4 linked regions of the Homo sapiens genome follow. The protein of the gene in region 3 purifies or fractionates together with the protein of the main gene of each other region. This does not show direct contact. Each region holds a gene or a part of one and is shown on either strand. Other genes may lie near its edges.

Region 1 (3,500 bases), on a different chromosome or scaffold from region 3:
TTTCCTCTGGCCTAAGGTAGTGGTTCTCAACTGGGGATGAAGTCATGTTTGGTTATCACAATTGGAGGAACGCTATCGGCATTTAGTGGGTAGAGGCCCGGGATGCTGTTAAAACATTCTATAATGGAAGGGACAGTTCCCCACAACAAAGAATTATCCAGCCCAAAACATCAATAGTACTGAGGCTGAGAAACCCAGGTATCCCTGTTTTGGACAATTATACATAAGGGGAAGCATGATGGAGAGCTTCCTTCTCAATATAAGACAGGGCTTCTCTAAGAGAAAGCCTTTTTATCCTTTCTCTTTCCTCCCTCTTTATAAGACCGATGTAATAATGAGAAGCTGGAGATGCTGCAGCCATCTTGTGACTATAAGGTGACAGACATGATGAAGAAAGGCTGCACATTAAGGAAGGGAGGACGGAATTATATAAAATCATAGGTTTGACGACAAGGACCTATCAAATTTGAGACCTTTGACAACTGGTTTAGTAAACACTAAAAGCCCTTATGTTTAAGGCACTGGGATGTGTTTTTTGTTACGTGCAATGAAAGCATTCCAAACTGATATACAAGTCTACGACCCCTTATCTGAGATTCTGAAATCTAAATGCCTTAAAAAACAAGTTTTGTTTTCTGTTTTTTTTTTTTTGGTAATCTTGGAGCAAACTTATTTGGTGGCAATACTACCTGAATTGTAACCCTATCCTACTAGTGTAAACAGTCTATCATTTTGCCACAGAAATATAAGTTTGCTTTTGGGGTAGTGCCCCAATAACTAGGTGTTATACATTACAAAGTACAGGTACCCTTCTGTAATCTGTAATCTTAATTTCTAAGACACATCTGGCTCCAAGAGTTTTAGATAAGAGGCTGTGGGCCTGACAAAGCAGTTAGGAGCTAGATACTTTTTTCATTTACATACCTCTTTATTGTTGAGTTCTAGAACAGCCAGTCCAACCAATGCTCCCACGCATTTGGAATTGAGTTCCAGGGCTCTGCTGAATGCCAGACGAGCTTTTTCCAGTTTGTTAAGTTTCACAAAGCAATGACCCATTCCTAAACGAACTTCCGCTATAAAATGAAGTCATTCAATCTATCAAACTAGGGCATTTTTTAGAGTTCAATTACAAAAATGCTTAAACATTCTCTATTTATGAGTTGCAAAATCCCCAAAATTAACCTCAGTATAACTACACTACAGAATCTTTTGACCTATCACAAACTTGGTTTCCTTGGAGGCTACATCATACCATATTCCAACCCTCTCCTCTATCACTGACACATTTCTCACTATAGAACAGAACACCTATAATACTGGTATTCTTCTTGTCTTCTAACATCGCTGCTAACCATACCTTCAATTTCTCATTATTGAAGAACAATTTTTAAACAGAGAACAAAAGTTCCACTAAGACCTTAAATAATATGACTGATTATGGGCACATACCATTGTTCCTTTCAAAGCTATGCTCATATGTGCTACCTCATTTAAGGCCATGCCAAAACACAAACAAGTTCCCATCTAAAGCCAATCACCATACTGGTCACTAGATGCCCTCTTATCTATTTAAGAATACTGCTCCAGCAACCCTCCCCTATTTTTTCTCTCTACTGGATCATTCATTCTCATCTACACATAAACGTTCTGCCATCTTATACAAATCCTCTCTTGATTCTATATCCCTTTCCAGTTGTCGATCATGTCTGTTCTTCAATAGCAAAACTCCCAGAATGATCTAGCTACGCTTGCTATGTCTAATTCCCTTCCTTCCATTTTCTCTTGAATACACTCCAGTGAAGCTCTCACCCCACCATTCCAGTAAAACTGCTTTTATCAAGGTCACTATGGATTTGTATGGTGCTAAATCCAATGATCAATTCTGTGTCCCTATTTTACTTGACCTAACAACAGAATTTGACACTGTTGGTCATCATCTTCTTCTGGAAACATTTTACATTTGCCTTTAAAGACAATGCACTTACCCTATTTTCCTCCTATACCTCTGGCTATTATCTTCTCAGTCTCCTTTGCTGATTCTTCCTCATTTCCCTAATCTCTTAATATCAGAGTGCTCTAGGGCTCCACCTCTAGACCTCTTTTCTATTTGCACTCATTCACAGCTTTATACACTATCTATATGTTGATGACTTCAGCCCAGACCTCTTTCCTGAATTCCAGCCTTTCTGCTGTCTTCACTTTGTCAATTTTAAATAACGGGATTTGGAAAATATGATTAAGTATAGAGTGTATTGGAGTGCAAGGTGTAAGAATGGCCACCAGAAAAGTACTGACTCCAAATGAATGATATCAGCATTTTCCAAAGTGAAAAAGTTAAGGTTTTAATTATTTGGGGGAAATAGAGAAGTTCTAGTAGGATTGTAACATTCTAAAATATAACACCAGGTGCCTATGTCACAGCAATTTGATTGGTTACAAATTGCTATATTCTAAAAAGATTATTTTATTGCTCCATGTGAGGGGGATCTTATTTCTGGCACCATTTGATCTTAATTGTTTACAGAAAAAAAAAGGCAGAAATTGCAACTGCATGCCACGTGACTCAGGTTGTATAGCCACATTCTTCTCAAGGCTCAGGATAAAGCTCTAAAAGCTTTAAGGCTGAACTGCTTAATTTGACAACTTATATGTCTAAAAGGTATTTCAAACTTTTCAGGTCTAAAACTAGTTCCACTTAAACTATTTCCCAAATATAGTAAAATATAACTCTACTTTTCCAATTGCTTGTGCAAGGGAGTTATCTTTGACTCTTCCTCTCTGTCTTATACATCATAGGTACTCCATCAGCTCTCCTTTCAAAATACATGTAGAATCTGACCACTTGTACCAACTCCACTATTACCTCCCTAGTGTGAGCCACAATCACCTCTGACCTGCCTGTCTGCAGATGCCTTCTCCCTGCTCTCCCTACTTCTGTCCTTGACCCCCTCCCCTTGAGCCCCACTCTAGTCTCAACCCCAAAGCTCAAACGAACCTTTTAAATATAGGTCAGATCACGTCACTCTGCTGCCCAAGGCCCTCCAATGGCTTCCCATCTCTGTCGATGTAAAAACTAAAGTCCTTACAATAATCTGTGATGCCCTACGTGATTAGTCAGTCCCTGGTTATAGCTTTGACCCCATTTCTTACTACTTTCCCCCCAACTCTTTCTCTCTCTATTCCAGAAACAATGGCCTCCTTACTCTTCCTTAAACTTACCAGGCACTCTCTTTCCTCTGGACCTTTGTACCTTCTATGCTCTCTCTCTAGGAGTGGTCTTCTCCTATATATCTGCATGGCTGCTAGTTGTTTTTTAGGTCTTCACACAAATGTCACTATCTCTGATGAGTTTCCTTGGTCATCCTTTCTAAGCAATTCCTGATGCTTCTCATACCCTTTTTCTGCTTTATTCTTCTCCTTGGCTCTTACTGGTAGCTTACACATCATACATACTTTACTATTTATCTTGCCCACTGAAAACTGGACTCCATGAGGGCAGG
Region 2 (3,500 bases), on a different chromosome or scaffold from region 3:
TTTTGTATTAATACATTATAACTATCTAATATATTCCAAATGTCATGTTTGCGACAATGTCTCTTTGCATCTACTTTGTACTTTAAATCTCCCATACCTTGTAACTGTACCATTTCTCCATTATGTTATCACTTTCATTTTTTTCTTCTGTAGTATCTAAAAATTTGATTAATACAGTCTCAAATTATTTATGTCACGAGTAAATCTTCCACTCCATTATCAAAAGCATCACGGAGATGATAAAGCAAAATAAGATTGAATTTCTGATACTTGTCTAAAATAAGCTCTAAATGAGACAGACAGATAAGGAATGACTATTTTAGTGGCAGTATGCCTTCTGATGTCCGGTGGTTGATCTCAGGCCATCCAGTATGAGCCTGGAACTACACATATCAGAGTTTTCCCAATGTTTCTGCTAAAGGCCTGCTAACAGCAGAGGACTAAGAGGTTCTCTATAAGCCTCAATAAAACAAGACAAACAGATCTGACATCAAAATAAACAAGTAACAAAAACAGTAGCCCAAAGCACAATAAATCAATTATCATGTACAATCCATTAATATTTAAGTATTAGCAGCTAGAAAACTAGTACCAAGGGAGAGAAAGTGGACACACTTTCTAAAAGATATCTTACATCAGCAGTTCCACAAGTCTCCTACATACTCCCGCATCGATGACCGCTTGAATTTTATCATTGGGTCCATCTGATAGATATGAGAGGGCCCAGCAGGCATCAGCCAGTACATCAGTGTCACTGACAAACAGCAACCAGGAAAGCACATTCAGACATGGAGAAACCTGTAAAAGGAAAATGATGATTATGAAATTCAATAGACTAAAAGCCAGAAGTGAGGTGAGATACTCAAGAAGGCAACCAGGCATGTACTTGGTGACTTCTAGGGTGATTTACACTTCTAAAGATGAAGCAGCAAGTACCTAAGTGGCATTTCCATCTTTGGCAATGTTGTCAGTGATCTTGCACTAATCTGTAGTCAAAGCCCAAGGAAAATAATTTCAGAGAGCAAAGTTTTATATACATCAATTCTTGGAGTAAGACTCCCTATCAAAACACATTCTTTGTGGACTAAACAGGTAAAGGAACTTTCACAAATGTGAAAACTAGGAAATTCTGTATTTTAGATACTTTGTTAAAGACCAAAAATGCTAAGGTTTTGTTCAGTGAAAAATGATTCCAAATTAAAAACAACTACAAAAATACCCATTTATTTTAATATCCAGAATCTGCAAGAAATTCAAATCAGCAAGAAAAAAAAATCCCATCAAAAAGTGGGCTAAGGACATGAACAGACAATTCTCAAAAGAAGATATACAAATAGCCAACAAACATATTAAAAAATGCAGCTGGGCGTGGTGGCTCACGCCTGTAATCCCAGCACTTTGGGAGGCTGAGGTGGGTGGATCACCTGAGGTCTGGAGTTCAAGACCAACCTGGCCAACATGGTGAAACCCCGTCTCTACTAAAAATACAAAAATTAGCCGGGTGTGGTGGTATGCGCCTGTAATCCCAGCTACTCGGGAGGCTGAGGCAGGAGAATCACTTGAACCTAGGAGGCAGAGGTTGCAGTGTGCCGAGACCGCGCCACTGCACTTCAGCCTGGGCAACAAGAGCAAAACTCCGTCTCAAAAAACCAAAAAACAAAAAATAGATGTTGGCATGAATGTGGTGAAAAGGGAACACTTTTACACTGTTGCTGGGAATGTAAACCAGTATAACCACTATGGAAAACAGTGTGGAGATTCCTTAAAGAACTAAAAGTATATCTACCATTTGATGCACCAGTCCCATTCCTGGGTATCTACCCAGAGGAAAAGAGGTCATTATAAGAAAAAGATACTTGTATACGCAGGTTTATAGCAGCACAATTCACAATTGCAAACACATGGAACCAGCCCAAATGCCCATCAATCAACAAGTAGATAAAGTCACTCAGGACTGGAAAACCAAACATCAGATGTTCTCATTCATAAGTGGGAGCTAAGCTATGAGGACGCAAAAGCGTAAGAATGATACAATGTACTTTGGGGACTCAGGGAGAAAGGGTCGGAGGTGGGTGAGAGATAAAGGACTACACACTGGGTACAGCGTACACTGCTTGGGTGTTGGGTGCACCAAAATCTCAGAAATCACCACTAAACAAGTAACTCATGTACCTAAACACCACCTGTTCCCCAAAAACCTATTGGAAAAAAAAAAAGAATCTCATGGACTCCCAGAGAACTCACAGACCACACTTTGAGAACCACTGTTTTAAGAGAACTGAAAGGATAGTCTCCTAAACAGTATACTAATTGTATGAAGCCTAATTTCAATAAGCTTTACAAATTCTTCCTTCATGCTATGCTTTATTTGCAGTCCCATCGTAAATGTGCACCTTCAAGCTATGCTCTAAATTTGCTTTTTAAATAATAAAGAGAACCAACAAAAACAACAACAACCCTGTTTCTCCAAAAACAGATAAAATTCTAACATTTTAAATTTTAACAAAAATTATCTTCCTGTTCACCTTACCATTGGTTGCAATACTCTTTTAATTGTATTTTTTCTGCCAATGTCCCAAAAGCATAGTCCTTACCTTTGCAAATTCTGGAGGTGGACTTTTCCCTCTACAGAGATTAGACAAAGCCCATACTGCATTCCGGGTCATGGTCAGGCGGTTTTGCTTTGAAAATAACCTAAAAGCACGATGGTACAATGGTAAACTATGTAACAGACAGTGATTATCTGATGACATAAATACTAAATAATAATACTTTTGATAAAGAGATGTCTTCAGATAGCTTTTCTCCAGAACATTAAAACTTCATTAATTCTGATGCAAGTAATTCAGAATTCAGAATTTTGGCATGGAAAAAGATAGGGTGCTTGAGGAAATGATCTAAACAAGAAAATATCTGGAATTAAAAATAACACTAGAAAATCCAAAATGATTTCCAAACATGTAATGCTTTCTGAGGAATCTCTTACATTTTTATTCTCAAAAAGAAAAAAAAAGGAAGAAGGAAGAAGAAACTTACTGCAAAAGAGGGGGAAGGATATTGCAGTCTAAGACATAGTCCCTGCACATGGTACTATCTCCAGCAATGTTGCCAAGAGCCCAGACTGCCTGTGAAAGAATCATTCATTAATAAAGGTTACATAGTTTAATTCCCTCATAATTCTTTCAGATGCCAGTATATCACAATAACACGTTCATCAGGGAGTCAAATGAAACAGTTGTAGGATTGGGGGAGGAAGATAAATAATATCCTAAAGTGTACAACAAACAGAAGGTATTCGGTTTATTAAAGGAAAGAACTAATTCATTTTTGTTTGTTTTTGTTTTTTGATACAGAATCTCGCTCTGTCACCCAGTATGGAGTGCAACACAGTGAAACTCCATCTCTACTAAAAATACAAAATTAGCCGGGTGTGGTGGCAGGCGCCTGTAATCCCAGCTGCTTGAGAGGCTGAGGCATGAGAACTGCTTGAACCTGACAGG
Region 3 (3,463 bases):
GCGGAGGCCTGATTTTTTTTAAAAGAACATTTAACTCTCACATCCACATGACACTGCTCTTCCACTCGGGCACCCGGGGAAGCTGCTGCTGCCACCATCCCTCAGAACTGGGAGCAGCATATCTTTTGTTTATTTTTTATTTTTGGAGACAGGATCTCACTCTGTTGCCCAGGCTGGAGTAGAGTGATGTGATCTTGGCTCACTGTAGCCTCAGCCTCCCGGGCTTAAGCGATCCTACCTCATCCTCCCTAGTAGCTGGGACTACAGGTGACACCACCACGCCTGGCTAATTTTTGTATTTTTTGTAGAGGCGGGGTCTTGCTATGTTGCCCAGGCTGGCCTTGAACTCCTGAGCTCAAACTGTCCTCCTGCCTCAGCCTCCCAAAGTGCTGGGATTGTAGGCGTGAGCCATTGTGCCTGGCTGGCAATGTTTCTTTTGGAATATTCAGAGTAAGCTTAGTTGGCGCCTAGAATAGACACTAACCTCTGATGCTCACAGAAGTCAGGCATCTATGGTTTGTCACACAAGCCATTCGCTGAATGCATTGGGTATCACTCTTTGCTAAGATAGGGAACGTGGAGTGTGGACCAGCTGTGTGGGTGGGTCCTGAGATCCACCTGTTCCTCCGTCAGGTTTGGAGTCCGCCCTCTGCCTAAACGCCAGATGGTTCTGAAGCTGAAGGAGATATTCCAGTACACTCACCAGACCCTGGACTCAGACTCCGAGGACGAGAGCCAGTCCTCACAGCCGCTGTTGCAGGCGCCTCACTGCCAGACCCTCGCCTCCCAGACCTACAAGCCTTCAAGGGCAGGGGTCCATGCCCAGCAGGAGGCCACCACAGGACCTGGGGCCCATAGGCCCAAGGGACCTGCTAAGACCAAGGGCCCCCGACATCAAAGGAAGCATCATGAAAGCATCACACCCCCAAGCAGGTCGCCCACCAAGGAGGCACCTCCAGGCCTCAATGATGACGCCCAGATCCCAGCCTCTCAAGAATCCGTGGCCACCTCTGTGGATGGCAGTGACAGCTCCTTGAGCTCACAGAGGTAACCGGATGGATGCGATGGGGTCAGTGGCCTCATGTATCCTCTGGCCCGTGGGCGTGAGGGTTGGCACGAGTGAGACCTAATGGCCAATCTTCAAAAACCCCCGTCACCTTCTGGGTTTGACCTGTGGGAAAACCAGGTGGGTTTAGGGGGCTGGTTCCCTGACCCCAGCCCTGCGCAGGCCTCCTGGTTCCTGCCCCACATGCTAGACATTTCTGGCTGGGGCAGGATCCCGCTGGCGTAGCCTGCAGGGATCTCTCAGGCCCGTCCTGCCTTGCTGGGGATCGTGCCACAGGCCAGGCTCCATGGGACCCGTAGACACCTTCCTTCCTTTAAAGAGGCTCATGGTCTCAGGGGCTGGAGAGAAAGGGGTTGCACAACGTCCTGGTCTGGCTCTTTTCAGTTCTTCCTCCTGTGAGTTTGGAGCGGCATTTGAGTCTGCAGGTGAAGAGGAGGGCGAGGGGGAGGTCAGTGCCTCGCAGGCAGCCGTGCAGGCGGCGGACACAGACGAGGCGCTGAGGTGCTACATCCGCTCCAAGCCGGCCCTGTACCAGAAGGTGCTGCTGTACCAGCCCTTTGAGCTGCGGGAGCTGCAGGCAGAGCTGAGGCAGAACGGCCTCCGTGTGTCCTCGCGCAGGCTGTTGGACTTCCTGGACACCCACTGTATCACCTTCACCACTGCCGCCACCCGCAGGGAGAAGCTCCAGGGCAGGAGGCGGCAGCCTCGGGGCAAGAAGAAGGTGGAGCGGAACTGATGGGGCCATCCCGACCCCACCCCAACCTGCCATCAGCAGCCCCCACCCCCGCCATTTGCAGGGAGGACCTGGGACACCCAGCGTGGGTCAGGCCTCCACAGGCATTTCTGGGCCTGGGGACCACATCAGCTCTGCGCTGTGATGATGACCACAGCCCAATCCAGGGCTTCCTCCTCTGGGCTCTGCTTTCTAGGGTGGCATTTGGAGCATGTCACCCACTGGATTTACAGACTCCAGCCCCTTCCTCTGTCCGTGCTCACAGTGTGTCTCCCTTTTTGGTTTTCTTTTTTTTTTTCTTTTTGAGACAGTCGTGCTGTGTCACCTAGGCTGGAGTGCAGTGGCACAATCTCGGCTCACTGCAACCTCCGCCTCCCGGGTTCAAGCAATTCTCCTGCCTCAGCCTCCCAGATAGCTGGGACTACAGGCACACGCTGCCACGCCCAGCTGATTTTTTATATTTTAGTAGAAACGGGGTTTCACCATGTTGCTCAGGCTGGTCACAAACTCCAGAGCTCAGGCAATCCGCCTGCTGCGGCCTCCCAAAGTGCTGGGATCACAGGCGCCAGCCACTGCGCCCGGCCCAGTGTGTCTCCCTTAACCCAAGAGGGCCCTCAGCTGTCCCAGGGGGCAGTGGGCCATCACCAGCTGGCCAGGGCATGGCCTATTCTGCCACATTTGCCACCCTCTGAGCCCACCAGTCCTGGGCACAGCTGCCCTACATGTCTGTCCTGAGATGGACGTCAGGTCCAGCCTGCCCCGGCAGCCCGGGCCCGTCCTCCTCAGCACTCAGGCCAACCCCAGCCACCGCCAGCCTGAGACCAGGTGTCCTGAGGCTCCCTGCACTGCCACAGCCCAGATGCAGTTCTCCTGACCCAGCCGTGCTACCCGGACACTTGTCATTGTTACCAGCAGTCTCCAAACTGGACAGTGCACAAGGGCCCAGAACAACTCTGATGCCACCACAAAACAAACATGTTCACTAGCGGATTCCATTCTTTGGGTTAAAGCTGCCTCCAGCCTCAGGAGCAGTGTGGAGGAAGATGAGGGCCAGGAAAGAAGGAAACCTTGGTTTCTCCATCCTTGTGAATGTCCTCGTCTGTTTCAAATACAGTGCAGTCAGTTTTATATGATGTGCAATAAACCAAAAAGGCTTTATTAAAATCTGGCTGCCACACTCCAGGGAGACCACGAGCGAAACGGGGGACCTGGAGGCACCGTGGCCCCTCAGCCCGTGCCCCACGCCTGCAGAAGTCCCCACCTTGCACCTGCCCTTTACTTTGGAGTAACCTGGGCCTGCTGTCTCCTCATTTCAGTTCCCAGACCAGAGATGCAGATGTTCATCCATTAATCCACACACCCGTATCCAACAGAGCCCTGGCTGGGTGCCAAGCTCCAGCCCCCGCACCTCAAAGTGGGGCCCAAGCACCCCCAGCTGCTGCCTCAGCCGGGAGTTGCTACAAAAGCAGATTCAGGCCCCACCCCACAACTCACCAAGACAGCACATGCCTTTACCATTGCGTCCGGTCCAGTGGAGGAGACAGACGCTGGCCTATCCCAGCCTGGTGGGGAGTCGGGCTCCAGTGGCTTGAAGGGCCGTGTCAGGGACAGCCTCCCAGAAGAGGGGTTTGTGAGCTGCATCTTAGGGCTCAGCAGCATTTAGG
Region 4 (3,500 bases), on a different chromosome or scaffold from region 3:
TTCCCCATCATGGGCAAGGAAGGGAATTCCCACAGCCCTCCAGTGTACTGAGGGTACTGGCCTAGCCATGTGGAATTCCCTACCCTGACTCCTTCCCCAAACCCAGGGAAAAGAGCTCTCAATTTTTTATTTTTAATTTTTGTTTGAAATAAAGTCCTTAGTTAGCCACTTGTGTCATTTCCAGGTTTTCTGGGGGAGTGCAGGGGGAGATGGGTGATGAGGTATGAACGGATGCCTCAGTGTCCAAGATACAAAAGGCACTACATAGAAGTTTGCTTTTTCCCTGCCTGTCTTGGTCACTACCACCTCTTCCCTGAGAAGGGCGGGCCTTCCATGTTCTCTCACCCGCTTCAACTCCACATTGTCCAAGTCACAGAAAAAGAGAGGCCTGAATGGAGATTCGACCACAAACAGTTTTAATGGTCTGGTTTTCTCCCTAGTTCCCCAACTGTTTGTTAGTATTATTATTACTACAAGAATAAAGGATTCCTGAGAGCCTGTCCCCTCCTCTCCTGTGGCCCCCTTGACAGGACTCATCCCTACCAACCCCCCACCCCCCCGCCCCGGATTTCTGGGGAAAAAAAGAAGTGAAAGGCACTGCAGGGGTAGGGGGCTTGAGTGCCAGTGAGTTGGGGTTGGGCGGGGGCGGGGGCGGGGGTGGGCACTAGGGCAGGGCCCGGCCTAGAGGAGGAAAGTTCCAGTCCATGCCTGAAGGAATTGTGGAGAGGTGTGTCCATCCATGACACCCCCATCAGTCCTTCCCTGAACCTGTCTAGCAGGCATACCTAAGTCCCATCCTCCCACCCCCAGGCCCACACTGGGGGTTCTGCAGCAGGAGCATAAAATTAATTAGTGTTGGGCTCAGAAAGGAGGAATGGAGGGTCCACTCTACTAGGACTCCAGGGCCAAACCCAAAGGGAGGTTGCAAATAACTAGAATAATCCTCAAATGCTCTTCTTCTTCAGGTTGGAGAGACAGGAATTAACAAAATATTAATGTTAATGAAAACTCCCCAGCCGAGGGATCAGGCAGCAGTAGGGAAAACCAGGCTCCAAGAGGAAGGGGCTGGTCAGTCCCAGGCCTTGGAGACTAGTTGTCCCCAACAGCCCCCTGCCGAGCCCTGATGAACGCCATGCCATGCGTGCGGAAGTGGGTCTTGAGGTTTAGAGGGCTGTCGCAGCTCTTGCCACAGACCTTACAGGTCAGTGGGCCTCCAGAAGCAGGCAGGGGTGAGTCTCCACCATCGGGGTCAGACCTTGATGGAGGGGCCTCTTCCTCCCCATCCCCCAGCCCCAGGGCACTGGCTTTACCCACACCCCGTCTCTTCTTGTGGCTGATGAAACGGTGTCGGCTCAGGGAGCCAGGGGAGGCAAAGCACAAGCCACAGTCGAGGCACTGCTGGGCACCATCCTCCACCCTCAACCCCATCATGAGGCTCTGTTCTGTGGAGCTGCTGCTCCGGTAGCGCAGAGGGCCATGGCCTCCAGATCCAGGTCCGCCCCTGGGGGACTTGGCTGGCGGTGTCGTGCTGTCAGGCTCCTCACTGCAAGAGTCAGAAGACTGGCGGCGTTTCCGACCTGGCCCCTGAAGAAAAGTGGAAGAAACTGGGCCTTACCACCACCCCTACTGTCCCTGGCACCCCCATGCTCGCTTCCTGAGGCCATGGTCTCTGCCTTCCAGTTTCCCACTCAAAGCCCTAGCACAGCAGGCCGGGCCTCTGCCTACCTGGGCTCTGGCACTGGAACCCCGAGCCAAGGTGGTCCCCCGGCCAGGGGACTGGGCCCCAAGCTGCAAGCCGTGCCGGACCTGGACATGTTTCTCTAGGATCAGGCGGCTGCTGAAGGTGCGTTTTCCCTCTGTGCAATACCTGAAATGGGAGAGGACAGGATGGCAGCAGCGGCACAGCCCGAAGGCCAGGGCCCTTGCTTCTGAGGAGGGGGCTGCCAGAGCAGAGGGAGACCCCAACCATCAGGCCACTTAGACACGTCGCAGGTGCACAGGTACTTTGGCATACAGGGAGAGTCACGTGCTGGGCAGGAAGAGGAAGCGGGGAGCAAGACTTACCTGCAGGGGTAAACTCGCTTGATGCCCTCGTGATTAACTCTGACATGGCGCCTCAGGCTGGGGGCGGAGCAGAAGGAGCGCTCACACAGGCGACAGGGGAACTTTTTCACTGACTAGGAGAGCAGGGGTAGATGTCAGAGCCAGGCTCCAGGACCCCGTCCCCACTGTCACACTGGCAGTCCCAATGCTGCCCCCAGCCCATGGTACTCCCCTTGGGGCCCACTCACCTTGCCATGCTCCTTCTTCATGTGGGCCACGTATTCATCACGCTCAGGGAACCAGGAGTGACACAGGCCACAGGTCCAGCCTCCAGGCCCCCCACCCCCACCCTTGAGGCCTTTGCTCCCTAGTTCCCGCCGAGGCCGTTTGGCTGGACGGGGGGGCTCAGGGGAGCTGGGTACTTCCTCCTCTTCTGAAGATGAAGACGACTCCTCAGTAGCAGGGGCTGCCCCTCCCTGAGAAACAGCCAGCTCCTCAGGCTCAGTCTTGGGGGTCAGCAGGGCACCCCCGGCCCCTTTCCCAGCAGTCTCCTCCAAGCGCCCAGACTGATGGGTGTTCTGTGAGAGGAGACAAGGGAGGTTGCTGTTGTGGGGGAGGGCCTGGCTATGCCAAAGCCCCCCACTTCTGAAGTATGTGGCCCCAGCCCCAGGTCAGTACAGCTAAGCACCCATTCCCCATCCCTCTGCTCCTGTACCTTGAGATGTTCCAGCATGGTCCTTTTTTGGGCAAAGAGCAGAGGACAAGACGGGCACTTAAAGACACTGACACGCTGGGGCAGCAAGTGCTGGTCGAAGTGTGAGGAGAGGAGGGGTTTGTGAGTGAAGACTGTGTCGCACATGGCGCACTTGTAGATCAGCCTGAAGTGAGGACAGTGCAGACATCAGGCAGGGTTGGGTGCAGCCCCTCCCCTCCTGCGCCCCACCAGCCCTCCCTGGCCCAGCCCGGCCCTCCCCCGGGCCTCACTTGGCCTGCTGAGTTTGGAAGCTGGGATGCTGGGAGTAGAGGTGGGCATGGGCACTTGGCCCAGACTTGAAGGCCATGGGGCAGATGGGGCACTTGTGGAAAACCTCGCAGTGCGACGTCTGGATGTGGGACTTGATGGAGTTCACACCCCCAAACACCACTGAACAGCTGGGGCACCTAGGGAGGAAGCAGGAGGCCCTGTGGTGAGGTGGGAGGCATCTCCATGCCCACCCCGGGACCATACATTTATTCTCTGGGACTGGGTAGACTACAAGAAGGAAATCAGTAGTGGAGCATGAGCAGGGTGGAGAAAGGAGAGAGGTGCAGAGGCTGTGCCCCAAGGGAGGCTGCCAAGGGAGAGCTGGAGCTCCAGAGGTGGCCCTGCTTCCCCCCATCTCCATGGGGGACGACGGGAAGGCAGGACGTACTATCTCAGGGTTGAGTCTGGCAAAACAACAGGGCTGAGGGATATA

What was found.
Region 1: the proteins of SLX4 (region 3) and CTR9 purify together in Homo sapiens (affinity purification with mass spectrometry, with the first as the bait; 2 studies listed by BioGRID). This does not show direct contact.
Region 2: the proteins of SLX4 (region 3) and KPNA1 purify together in Homo sapiens (co-immunoprecipitation; 3 studies listed by BioGRID and IntAct, with this or other methods). This does not show direct contact.
Region 4: the proteins of SLX4 (region 3) and ZNF687 purify together in Homo sapiens (affinity purification with mass spectrometry, with the first as the bait; 2 studies listed by BioGRID). This does not show direct contact.

The regions. Positions count from the first base shown.
Region 1 is NC_000011.10:10,757,746-10,761,245, reverse strand, and holds part of CTR9 (RNA polymerase-associated protein CTR9 homolog), read right to left. Parts: intron 1,074-3,500; coding exon 925-1,073; intron 1-924. UniProt on the Homo sapiens protein: Component of the PAF1 complex (PAF1C) which has multiple functions during transcription by RNA polymerase II and is implicated in regulation of development and maintenance of embryonic stem cell pluripotency.
Region 2 is NC_000003.12:122,448,940-122,452,439, forward strand, and holds part of KPNA1 (importin subunit alpha-5), read right to left. Parts: intron 3,126-3,500; coding exon 3,037-3,125; intron 2,695-3,036; coding exon 2,595-2,694; intron 799-2,594; coding exon 635-798; intron 1-634. UniProt on the Homo sapiens protein: Functions in nuclear protein import as an adapter protein for nuclear receptor KPNB1. Binds specifically and directly to substrates containing either a simple or bipartite NLS motif.
Region 3 is NC_000016.10:3,580,681-3,584,143, reverse strand, and holds the end of SLX4 (structure-specific endonuclease subunit SLX4), read left to right. Parts: intron 1-633; coding exon 634-1,047; intron 1,048-1,450; coding exon 1,451-1,802; 3' UTR 1,803-2,963; downstream 2,964-3,463. UniProt on the Homo sapiens protein: Regulatory subunit that interacts with and increases the activity of different structure-specific endonucleases.
Region 4 is NC_000001.11:151,288,799-151,292,298, reverse strand, and holds the end of ZNF687 (zinc finger protein 687), read right to left. Parts: intron 3,205-3,500; coding exon 3,028-3,204; intron 2,922-3,027; coding exon 2,759-2,921; intron 2,622-2,758; coding exon 2,292-2,621; intron 2,178-2,291; coding exon 2,065-2,177; intron 1,868-2,064; coding exon 1,726-1,867; intron 1,585-1,725; coding exon 1,090-1,584; 3' UTR 123-1,089; downstream 1-122. UniProt on the Homo sapiens protein: May be involved in transcriptional regulation.